Linked DNA regions of Homo sapiens. The protein of the gene in region 2 interacts with the protein of the main gene of each other region in a biochemical or structural test. Each region holds a gene or a part of one and is shown on either strand. Other genes may lie near its edges.

Region 1 (4,665 bases), on a different chromosome or scaffold from region 2:
GGCTACGTTGTGTTCCATGATGGATTGGAAGAGTTCATCTTCATCCTCCCCTTCAAAGGGTGCCTGTATGACAGGGGAGGGTGGGAGGAGAAGAATCCCTGCTTGAACCCTCCCCCTAGCTCCCCTCAACTGGCAGACCCTCCTCCCTGGGGCCCACAGTGAAGCCACACACCCAGGCTTTCAAATGACCACAGACTTGTATGACCCCAAGGCCGGGAAAGTCATAGAGGTTCCAATTTATGAGCTGTTACCAAACATGCATTCTCCTAAAGAAACCATGTGGATGGGGGTAGGGAGGACTTCTCTTATCGATCACTTAAAATTCAATTACCTGCCCAGCCAACATTTCATACAGCAGGACTCCAAATGCCCACCAATCCACGGACTTCCCATAGGGCTGATAAGCAATTATCTAGAAAAGAGAAGGCACCCTATCAGGGAGGTTTGCAGTTCATGTTTCTTCTGGAGACAGATTTCACTCTTCTTTTACAAGAAGGCCAGTGCCCACCTGAACTGTTTCTTTATATTAGCTATTCAGGGAATGACAGACATGCTTTGCAGAGGCACCTGCAGCTGGGCAAACACCTGTGGCTGTCACATTGCCTTTTCGAAGCACTAAGTAAGGTGTATTGTTATTATTATTTTCAAAACAGTGAGCATGGAATTTTTAAAAGGAAAAACTGTCTTTACTCCTCTGTAAAAGTTACAACATTTACACAATAATGTAAATATACTTAACACTACTAAATTGTATACTTAGAACTGGTTAAAATAGTAAATTTTACGTTACATGTTTTTAAAACATAATTAAACATAAAAACGTTTAAGAGATAACAACATTTGTCACTATTTTAATATTTCTTTATAAAAGATAGCTCAGCTGAGATAATAACATGAAAATCACCCATAATCCTTTATTAAGAGAAAAATTATGACTAATATTTGGTCTACTTCATTCCATACTCTTTTCTCTGAATACATATTAAACTCTGTGTGTATGTGTGTGCTTTACATAAACACTTTAGTATTTGGACGATTTTTTTTCTTTTTTTCTTTTCTTTTTTTTTTGAGATAGTGTCTCTTTTTGTCACCCAGGCTGGAGTGCAGTGGTGAGATCATAGCTCACAGCTCACAGCCTTGGCCTCCTGGGCTCAAGCAATCCTCGCACCTCAGCCTCCTGTGTAGTTGGGACTACAGGTGCTCACCACCATGCTAATTATTTAATTTTTTGTAGGGATGGGGTCTCTCTATATTGCCCAGACTGATCTCAAACTCAAGCAAAGCTCCCATCTTGGCCTCCCAAAGCACTGGGATTATGGGCAATAGATCTTTAATAAAGCCAGTTATTCACTTAAGTTTTCCTTGCTAATTTAATATTTGTATATGAACATAATCAATTTTTATCTGTGCATAGCATTCCGTTGAATGGATATACCAAAATCTATCTTATAAATTTCCAGTTGATTAGGTTTCTTCCAATGCTGTAACATATATTCTTGTAATTAGACATTTGGACATCTGTCCAAGTATTTCCTTAAGATAAACTCCTAGATGTAGAATTGGTGTATCATATGGTATATATGGTTGTGAAGTTTTTAATTCATATTCCCAAACTGCAAGAACATGGAAAAGTCTAGAAGAGCTATGTGATTGTCCATCTTTCAGTATGCAGGGATGTAAAACTAACCATGTCAGAGGTTAAGAGGTAATACAGCAAAGGCTAAAGGCTGAGGTCTGAGGGTTAGGCAGTCTGACTTTGAATCCTGACTGCTGTCTACCGGTTGGCTGTCTGACCACAGGAGAAGTTACTTAACTTCTATAATCTCTATATCATGAAGTTATGTGAGGATGAATGAGATACTCGGTGGCTTTCACATATTATGCCCTCAAAATGTTAACTAATCCTAGAATGTTTTATAATTCAGTTATTGCTTGTTTAACTCAAAAAGGGTATTTGAGCAAACTTGGCTATAAAGTGAATGTTTGTTTCTTGATCTCTATCTCCCACTTTGATTTCTATTCCAAAATCAGAAATGCAGAGATGTTGATTACAGGATACAAAATTTCAGTTAAGTAGCAGGAATAAATTCAAGAGACTTATCGTGTAACACAGTAACCATAGTTAATAACAATCTATTGTATTCTTGAAAATTGCTAAGAGGGATTTTTAAGTGTTTTTACCATAAAAAAATAAGTATGTGAGACAATAAATATGTTAATTAACTCAACTTAGCCATTCCACAATGTATGCATATTTCAGAACAACATGTTGCACATGATAAATGTATACAATTTTACTGGTCAATTATGAATGAATGAAATGCATTCTGAGAAGTAACCCTCAAGACAAGGAAGGGAAAGCATTCCAGGAGAACACTTCTCATTGAACGTGTTTTCCACTTTGGGAGGCCGAGGCGGGCGGATCACGAGGTCAGGAGATCGCGACCATCCTGGCTAACACGGTGAAACCCCGTCTCTACTAAAAAAATACAAAAAAAATTAGCTGGGCGTGGTGATGGGCACCTGTAGTCCCAGCTACTCGGGAGGCTGAGGCAGGAGAATGGCATGAATCCAGGAGGCAGAGCTTGCAGTGAGTAGACAGAGTGAGACCCTGTCTCAAACACACACACACACACACACACACACACAAGAAACAATGTGGGATGCCCAAGCATCATCCCATTAGAATCTCTGCAGGTGGAGGCCCAGGATCTGTGGTTCTCAGAAGTTCCTCGCTGGTCGTGATTCAGGCAAGCACAAGAAACCCTCAACTGTGTGGCTGGTGAAGTTGCCTCCCCTCCAGCCCACAGATGGGAGGGATAAGCAGCAGGTCAGGCTTTGTCATGAGCTAACCACATCACCTTCGGCAACTGCTGTCACATCCCAGGCTCTAGTTTCCTTTGTAAAAGGATTAACTTGTTGGCTTGTCATGAGGATCAAATAAGACTTGAAGTACTTTAAAAGTGTGGAAACACTTTCTTTCTTTCTTTCTTTCTTTTTTTGAGACAGAGTCTCGCTCAGTCGCCCAGGGTGGGGTGCAGTGGCATGATCACTGCTTACTGCAGCCTCTACCTGCTGGGCTCAAGTGATCCTCCCACCTTAGCCTCCTGAGTAGTCAGGACAGCAGGGGTGACCTAGTGCACCTGGCGAATTTTTAATTTTTTTTGTAGAGATTAGGGTCTCACTATGTTGTCCAGTCTGGTCTCAAACTTCTACCCTCAAGCGATCTTCTTGCCTCAGGCTCCCAAAGTGCTGAGATTACAGGAGTGAGCCACCATGCCCCAGCTGCATCCTACATTGTAAAAGCTCCCTCACGACTCTAAACTGCAGTTAGAGTTGAGAACCAGAGATTATGGAACCCCTGGCCTATCAGGAAGTTGTGTTATGGATTGTGTCCTATCTAATTAATTAACAAAATGATAATAGACCAAAGCATATCACATAGGGAAAACTTCACTGGGTCCGAGTAAAGCCTTATTATTTTTAAAGAATTACTTTATTACTCAAGTAATACCCAAATACATTTACCTTGTAAAAAATGTCAGCAGTATACAGAAATAGCTAAATTTCTCTTTACAATTCCCTTATCCTCAGAGGTAACCAGTGTTATAAAATCAGTTTGAAATCTTCCAGATTTTTGTATGCTTTTACTCATTGAAAACAGAACAGTGTTCTGTGTATTTCTGTTTCATCCATAAATAGTATCATAGTGTTATTTGTCATTCTTCTTCTTTTTTTTTTTTTTTTTTTTGAGACAGGGTCTTACTGTGTCACCCAGGCAGGCTGGAGTGCAGTGGCATAATCACGGCTCACTGCAGCCTGGACCTCCTGGGGCTCAGGTGATTCTCTTACCTCAGCCTCCCAAGTAGCTGGGACTACAGGCATGTGCCACCACACCCGGCTAATTTTTGTATTTTTTGTAGAGACGAGGTCTCGCCATGTTGGCCAGGCTGGTCTGGAACTCCTGGGCTCAAGTGATCCACCTGCCTCTGCCTCCCAAAGTGCTGGGATTACAGGCGCGAGCTGCCACACCTGGCCTTGTATTTGTCATTCTGTACCTTGATTTTTTTCTCTAACAATGTGTCTTGAAGATCTTTTCACATCTACATATATATCTAACTCACTCTTCTGAATTGGTGCCTGGTAGTATTTCATGCTATAAATAAATCACGGGCTATTGTCCATTTTCCTGCTGAGGGACATATACAGGACACAGATCCCATGTCATATGCCAGCCCAGGGGATATGCTCTTTTTCTCTCAACAAACATTTCAATGTCATAATTAGGCGGTATCACATGGCCGTGAGCCACAACAGTTTGACGAAGAATTTTACTGATGTGTGTTGGATGGTTCTTTTGGGTTTTATTTAAATTTTCTCCCAAACCTTGATGTATTTTGGGCTTGGGCTTCTGGATGTGTGCTAAATTAATTTGCATGTGTGATCTCAAAGGGAGGATTTAGAGTATAGAATAAGAATCTGTCCGAGGTTCCCTTGCAAGGTACCACCCTCAACCCTTCCCAGCTCTCACACAGCCATCTGGGGAGCAGAGGGTACATCACCGCAATGTGAACGTGTGCCCAGCAGCTCTCACCTCGGGGGCGATGTAGTCTGGAGTGCCACAGAATGTCTTGGTTGTCACCCCATCCCAGATGTTTTCCTTAC
Region 2 (5,749 bases):
ATCTGACCAGGGATCCTGGCTTTCTCTGCCTCCTGCAGTCAGTCATCAGGATCCTTGTTTTGTTTTCCTCTCTGTCTCTGTTGTTTTCCTACAAAGGAAAATAGTTTGGTTCTTTTACAAGAAATCTGTTTAATCATATCTAGAATAGGGTGGCCAGAGGAGGACTGTTACTCAACTGCTGAGTGGCAGAAATCCGTGAGGGTATGAAAAGCCAGCTTGTCCCAGGTCTCTGCTCGCATTTACCCCATCAAGAGGCTCTCTCTAAAGACTTCATGTCTCTTGGGGGCTTCCCCCTTTCTGCGTTGCTCTTTTCCTTGCACCCCCAAGTGGAGCTGGTTGGTACCCTTCCCTCACAGAAGACCAGAGTGCTTGCAATGCAATGTCTGCAGCGAGATCACATCACAGAGCTTTTTATCTGATATCAATGCCCTTAAGAATTTTTGCAGCCAATATTTAACAAGTCAGCCTGAAAATACAGCTGGACCCTATAACTGTTTATTTATTCAGACGAAGTGAAGCTTTTTGGCTAGGTGCCCCTGTTGAGGGCTTGGGGTATACAACTGCAGAATACTGATGATTGTTCCAAGTTTGGACATGGGACTCAAACTGAGCTCTACAGTATAGTCCCTGTCCACTAGCAGGGATCCTCAGCCAAACCATGGAAGGTTGTAGGTCTGGCTTCCGCTAGACCCAGCTGGGGGACTGTCTCCCCTGGAGAACTGGGGGGGTGGGGAGAGGGTATTGTAGAAAGCTGAGCCCTCAGATTCAACTTGCTTGTATTTTAATCTAGCCTCAGAAGGTAATAAAATTAATGTTCTATACCCATGTCCCCTTTTTCCTTATTCCTTGCCCCTACTTTGTCAATGTGTTCAATGTGTTCAATGTGTTAAAACACAATGTGGGGATTTGGTGGGTAGGAATGAAGACTGGTATAAGTATATACTGGGAAAGCCTTGAATTCCTGGCAAATGTAATATTTTTCTCTCCTTTTTTTTTTTTTTTTTTTTTGAGACAGAGTCTCACTCTGTCACCCAGGCTGGAGTGCAGTGGTGCTGTCTCAGCTCACTGCAACCTCTGCCTCCCAAGTTTAAGTGCCTCAGCCTCTCTAGTAGCTGGGATTACAGGCATGCGCCACCACACCCAGCTAATTTTTGTATGTTAGTAGAGACAGGGTTTCGCCACGTTGGCCAGGTTGGTTCTGAACTCCTGGCCTCAAGTGGTCCTCCCACTTTGGCTTCCCAAAGTGCTGGGATTACAGGTGTAAGCCACTGCGCCCAGCCCTAATATTTTTCTCTTTTACAAATACCATTCTCACTAATATGATATTTTCCTAAATGAAGACAAGTTGTCCAACATGAAAGATGATAAAATTCTACCCTCCTTTTTGCACAGCTAACTGGTGGAAATTATTAGCAAGTGATCTGGCTTCTGTTAATACAATTTAATTGAATGTGTTTTAAAATACAAGCAACAACTTTGTTCAAACTAAACCCATTTTTAGAGCCTGTATTGTAGAATATAACTTTTCTCTTGATTTGTTATGAAAGGAGTATATTCTTCAGTGAAAATGAAGTCTAATTTCTGTATCCGTGAAATAAGTATTTGAATTAACATAGCATTTGAAAATTAAAATTGCCCCATGCCTTGCTGCCAAGGAAGCAGAACAGGAGAATGGGGTGCCGGATTTAGAGCCAGTGTGCCTGATTTTCAGTTTCTACCATCCCAGACTATGACCTTCCCAATTTTAATGAATATTCTTGCACCCAGTTTCCTCACCTCCAAAAAGCATGCTGATTAAGTGAAATGGCCTGTTCTGAAACCCACCACTCTCTGTGAGTACACCATGTGTGCCCATGGCCAGATGGCCAGCATGCATGATGAGAATGGAGTCAGGTAATACCAATGTCTCAGACTAAGAAGCTCGAAGATATAATCTTGTGCTCCATCACTCCTAAATACCATTTTCAAAGTATTCCCTCTTGGAAACATAAACGTCCCTAACCCAGGTCTGAAGAAAACTTTCATAACTAAAGAATGCCATGCACCAAAGCTCAAAGCAAGTAGATTTCAAGAGCGAAGCATCACCCACTAATAGATATGAGGCTGAATTTAGGTTTCCTTCTTAGCGGTGAGTTTAACTGAATCATTAATGCACTTGGAAAGAGGCAGGAAAGACAGTGCCCTGTATATTAGAACAAGATGCAGGGAGCGAGCCTCTCAAGAATCAGAGGCCATCATTGGAGAGGCCTGGATTCTGGCGATTTAACGAATTCCTGATGACATAGCAAGGTCGTAGGAGATGGAGCCATTCACCACAAAGATCAGATGCCCCAACACAGGCCATTAGTTACCTTGAAAGATTTTTGTTTCCCATTGTCCTCTCTCCTCTTTTAAATTCTCTGTTCTAACTTCTGGCAAGGTTTAGCAAATGGCACATGGCAGGAAGCACTTTTATTTGAAACAGTCTTCCTAGGATAACATCCTTTCTTCCATTTTTATATATAAACGTCTAAAACTATCTTGGCATTGGCCAAACTTTATCTTCCCTTTATGTATATAGCTGTATCAGTCTTGGCAGCAATAAAAAGTGAAGAAACTTTGAAATGGTTTCTTCAGGATGCAAGCATGTTGAGGTCTTGTGCACATGTGTGATTGCTGGTTTCCATAAGACTCCAGACGTGAGCCAGTTGCCAAATGAAAAGATCAAATCTGTGACTCAGAGAGTCCAATGGATTATCTTAATTAACTACATCATAATCAGCATGGTTCATGCATAAAAATATATTCACTTAAATAAGTTCCTGCTATTAACAGGCTCTGTTCTAGTTGTTTGAGATGTATCAGACAACTAGTGTCTGTATGATAAGGGCTTATTTTTTTGATGAGTAGATACTTATGGACCGTACTACCCTTCTAATCAGGAAAGTTAAAAAGACATGGTAGGAAGAACATGGGCCTCAAAATGCAACCAGCATTTGAATGCTCACTATACAGTGTTAGCTGGCTAACTTTTACAGTGATTAATCTGTCATATTCTTCCCATATCAGCCTCAGGGCTCAATGGAGGTGTTAGCTGTGGAGAGGCTTTCCAGAGAGTTGTGCTCTCTGAAATTCAAGAATCTTCTTCAAGCTTGACTCCTGATAAGTATTTTTCTTCCTCTTACTTCAGGTGGTGTAACTGTCACACTCCCTCAGGCAGGACCATGGAACACAGCATCTTTGGTCTTCAATCAGTCCCCTTCAATGGCTCCGGGAGCCATGATGGGTGGTCAACCTTCAGGTTTTAGTCAGCCCGTCATTTTTGGTACAAGTCCAGCTGTTTCAGGTTGGAACCAGCCTTCACCCTTTGCAGCCTCAACTCCCCCTCCAGTGCCTGTTGTCTGGGGCCCTTCTGCATCTGTGGCACCCAATGCTTGGTCAACAACAAGCCCTTTGGGGAATCCTTTTCAGAGCAATATTTTTCCAGCTCCTGCTGTGTCCACTCAGCCCCCATCCATGCACTCCTCTCTCCTGGTCACTCCTCCTCAGCCACCTCCCAGAGCTGGCCCTCCCAAGGACATCTCCAGTGATGCCTTCACTGCCTTAGACCCACTTGGGGATAAAGAGATCAAGGATGTGAAAGAAATGTTTAAGGATTTCCAACTGCGGCAGCCACCTGCTGTGCCCGCGCGGAAGGGAGAGCAGACTTCTTCTGGGACTTTGAGTGCCTTTGCCAGTTATTTCAACAGCAAGGTTGGCATTCCTCAGGAGAATGCAGACCATGATGACTTTGATGCTAATCAACTATTGAACAAGATCAATGGTAAGCCACTCACCACTCTGCCTACTGTTCCAACAACTATCTCCACTGCCACATGGACCTAAATGAGTTCCCCAAATGAACCCTCTCCCACCCGCCAACAGCTTTGCTCTTGCTTCTGTTGGTAATCAAGGGTTACGGAGACAACTTAACCATTTACCTTTTGGTGATAACTATTTACCTTAGTCATTTCTGAGGACTGACCCAATGCTGCCCTCTAGTGATAAATCTTAAAAGGGCTGCCATGAGCTATTGAAATGTGATGACTGGTGACTCTTGGAGGGCTGTGTAATAAGGCGTCATCCATGTCCCATCAGCTTAAAATGAGGGGATTCTGAATCTCTTCCACTTCAGATAAATATGCATGGCTTTCTCTTCCGAGAAGGATAATAATTATTGGGGTACCTAGTATTTGGTGTTGATTTTTGTTCCACTGATGTAAATTTCAAAAGTATAGAACTAAACTTCAAAAATAAGCTGACTCGGGGACTGGCCTATATTTGGGGAAAGCTTGTCTACTGATTGCCTGGATTTTTTACCTTCTAGAACCACCAAAGCCAGCTCCCAGACAAGTTTCCCTGCCAGTTACCAAATCTACTGACAATGCATTTGAGAACCCTTTCTTTAAAGATTCTTTTGGTTCATCACAAGCCTCTGTAAGTATGAACTACTAGAAGCTCTTCTCCAAAGTACATGCCACATAGAGCTCCAGCCTCCTGAATTAACCTTGCTTTTATAATAGCTTTTATTTATTTATTTATTTTTTTAAGACAGAGTCTTGCTCTGTCGGCCAGGCTGGAGTGCAGTGGTGCAATCTCAGCTCACTGCAACCTCCACTTCCTGAGTTCAAAGGATTCTCCTGCCTCAGCCTCCTGAGTAGGTGGGACTATAGGCACGTGCCACCACACCTGGCTAATTTTTGTATTTTTTTGTAGAGATGGGGTCTCGCCATGTTGGCCAGACTGGTCTCAAACTCCTGACCTTAAGTGATCCATCTGCCTTGGCCTCCCTCAGTGCTGGGATTACAGTCATGAGCCACCGCACCTGGCTATAATAGCTTTTTGATGGTAAAACATGTTTAGCTAAGATTTGTCACCAAGAACCTTCACAGTATAAACATTCATTTAAACTGGAGAAAGATTATTTGCACAAGAACTATTATCTTCTGAATTTGAGAAATAATATCACATAGAAAACATCCTTCATATCTCACTTAACCTGACCCATGAAAGCATTTCGGGAGAAAATTGAGCCAAAATACTGTCTTGAAAACCTTTCAAAAATTTAAGTTCTTAATTTTCCAACAATATTTCTATAGCCTGTGAAAATAATACTTCCCATTTCGGGGAGGCAAATGAAATGCATCTGAACCTTGATTTTCACATAAATAATATACACTGCCATCTGCAAGCAGATGAAAACAAAACACTGTAAGCCCCATATAATGTTTGATTGGCTGATTGGCCTATGACCTAAGCGATTTTTAAAAGAATTTTGGAAGTCTTCATTGCGATTTTTTTCTTATGACTGTAACTGTATTTATTGACTAGATGATTTTATCTTCTTAGGTGGCTTCTTCTCAACCTGTATCTTCTGAGATGTATAGGGATCCATTTGGAAATCCTTTTGCCTAAATTCTGTAAGTAGAAGATCCTAATAAGCCTGTCTCAGGGGTTTTTGTGAGAAAGGGTGACATGGAATAAAGAGTGAAATTTTAATTTTAGAATTGGGAAGAGGGTAAATATCTATAATTTAGGAGTAATCGACAGGAAAATCTCTACTGAGATCATTCAATAATGACTAGGCTGGGCACTTAAGAATAGAATTCCTAAACACATCAAAAAATAGTAATATACCCTTGGGGATGTGGATTTTTATCTTATTCCATGTTCTTGGTTTTTCAGTTCTGTGTGGGAAGTAAAACTCAAAACAACACATCACAGGTTTCTA

Evidence for each region. Proteins that work in one complex are often made in the same cells at the same time.
Region 1: of the proteins of DAB2 (region 2) and PRKCB, one has a biochemical effect on the other in vitro, tested with the Homo sapiens proteins (one study listed by BioGRID).

The regions. Positions count from the first base shown.
Region 1 is NC_000016.10:24,180,858-24,185,522, reverse strand, and holds part of PRKCB (protein kinase C beta type), read right to left. Parts: coding exon 4,595-4,665; intron 413-4,594; coding exon 332-412; intron 64-331; coding exon 1-63. UniProt on the Homo sapiens protein: Calcium-activated, phospholipid- and diacylglycerol (DAG)-dependent serine/threonine-protein kinase involved in various cellular processes such as regulation of the B-cell receptor (BCR) signalosome, oxidative stress-induced apoptosis, androgen receptor-dependent transcription regulation, insulin signaling and endothelial cells proliferation.
Region 2 is NC_000005.10:39,374,703-39,380,451, reverse strand, and holds part of DAB2 (disabled homolog 2), read left to right. Parts: intron 1-3,169; coding exon 3,170-3,802; intron 3,803-4,345; coding exon 4,346-4,455; intron 4,456-5,367; coding exon 5,368-5,433; 3' UTR 5,434-5,438; intron 5,439-5,749. UniProt on the Homo sapiens protein: Adapter protein that functions as a clathrin-associated sorting protein (CLASP) required for clathrin-mediated endocytosis of selected cargo proteins.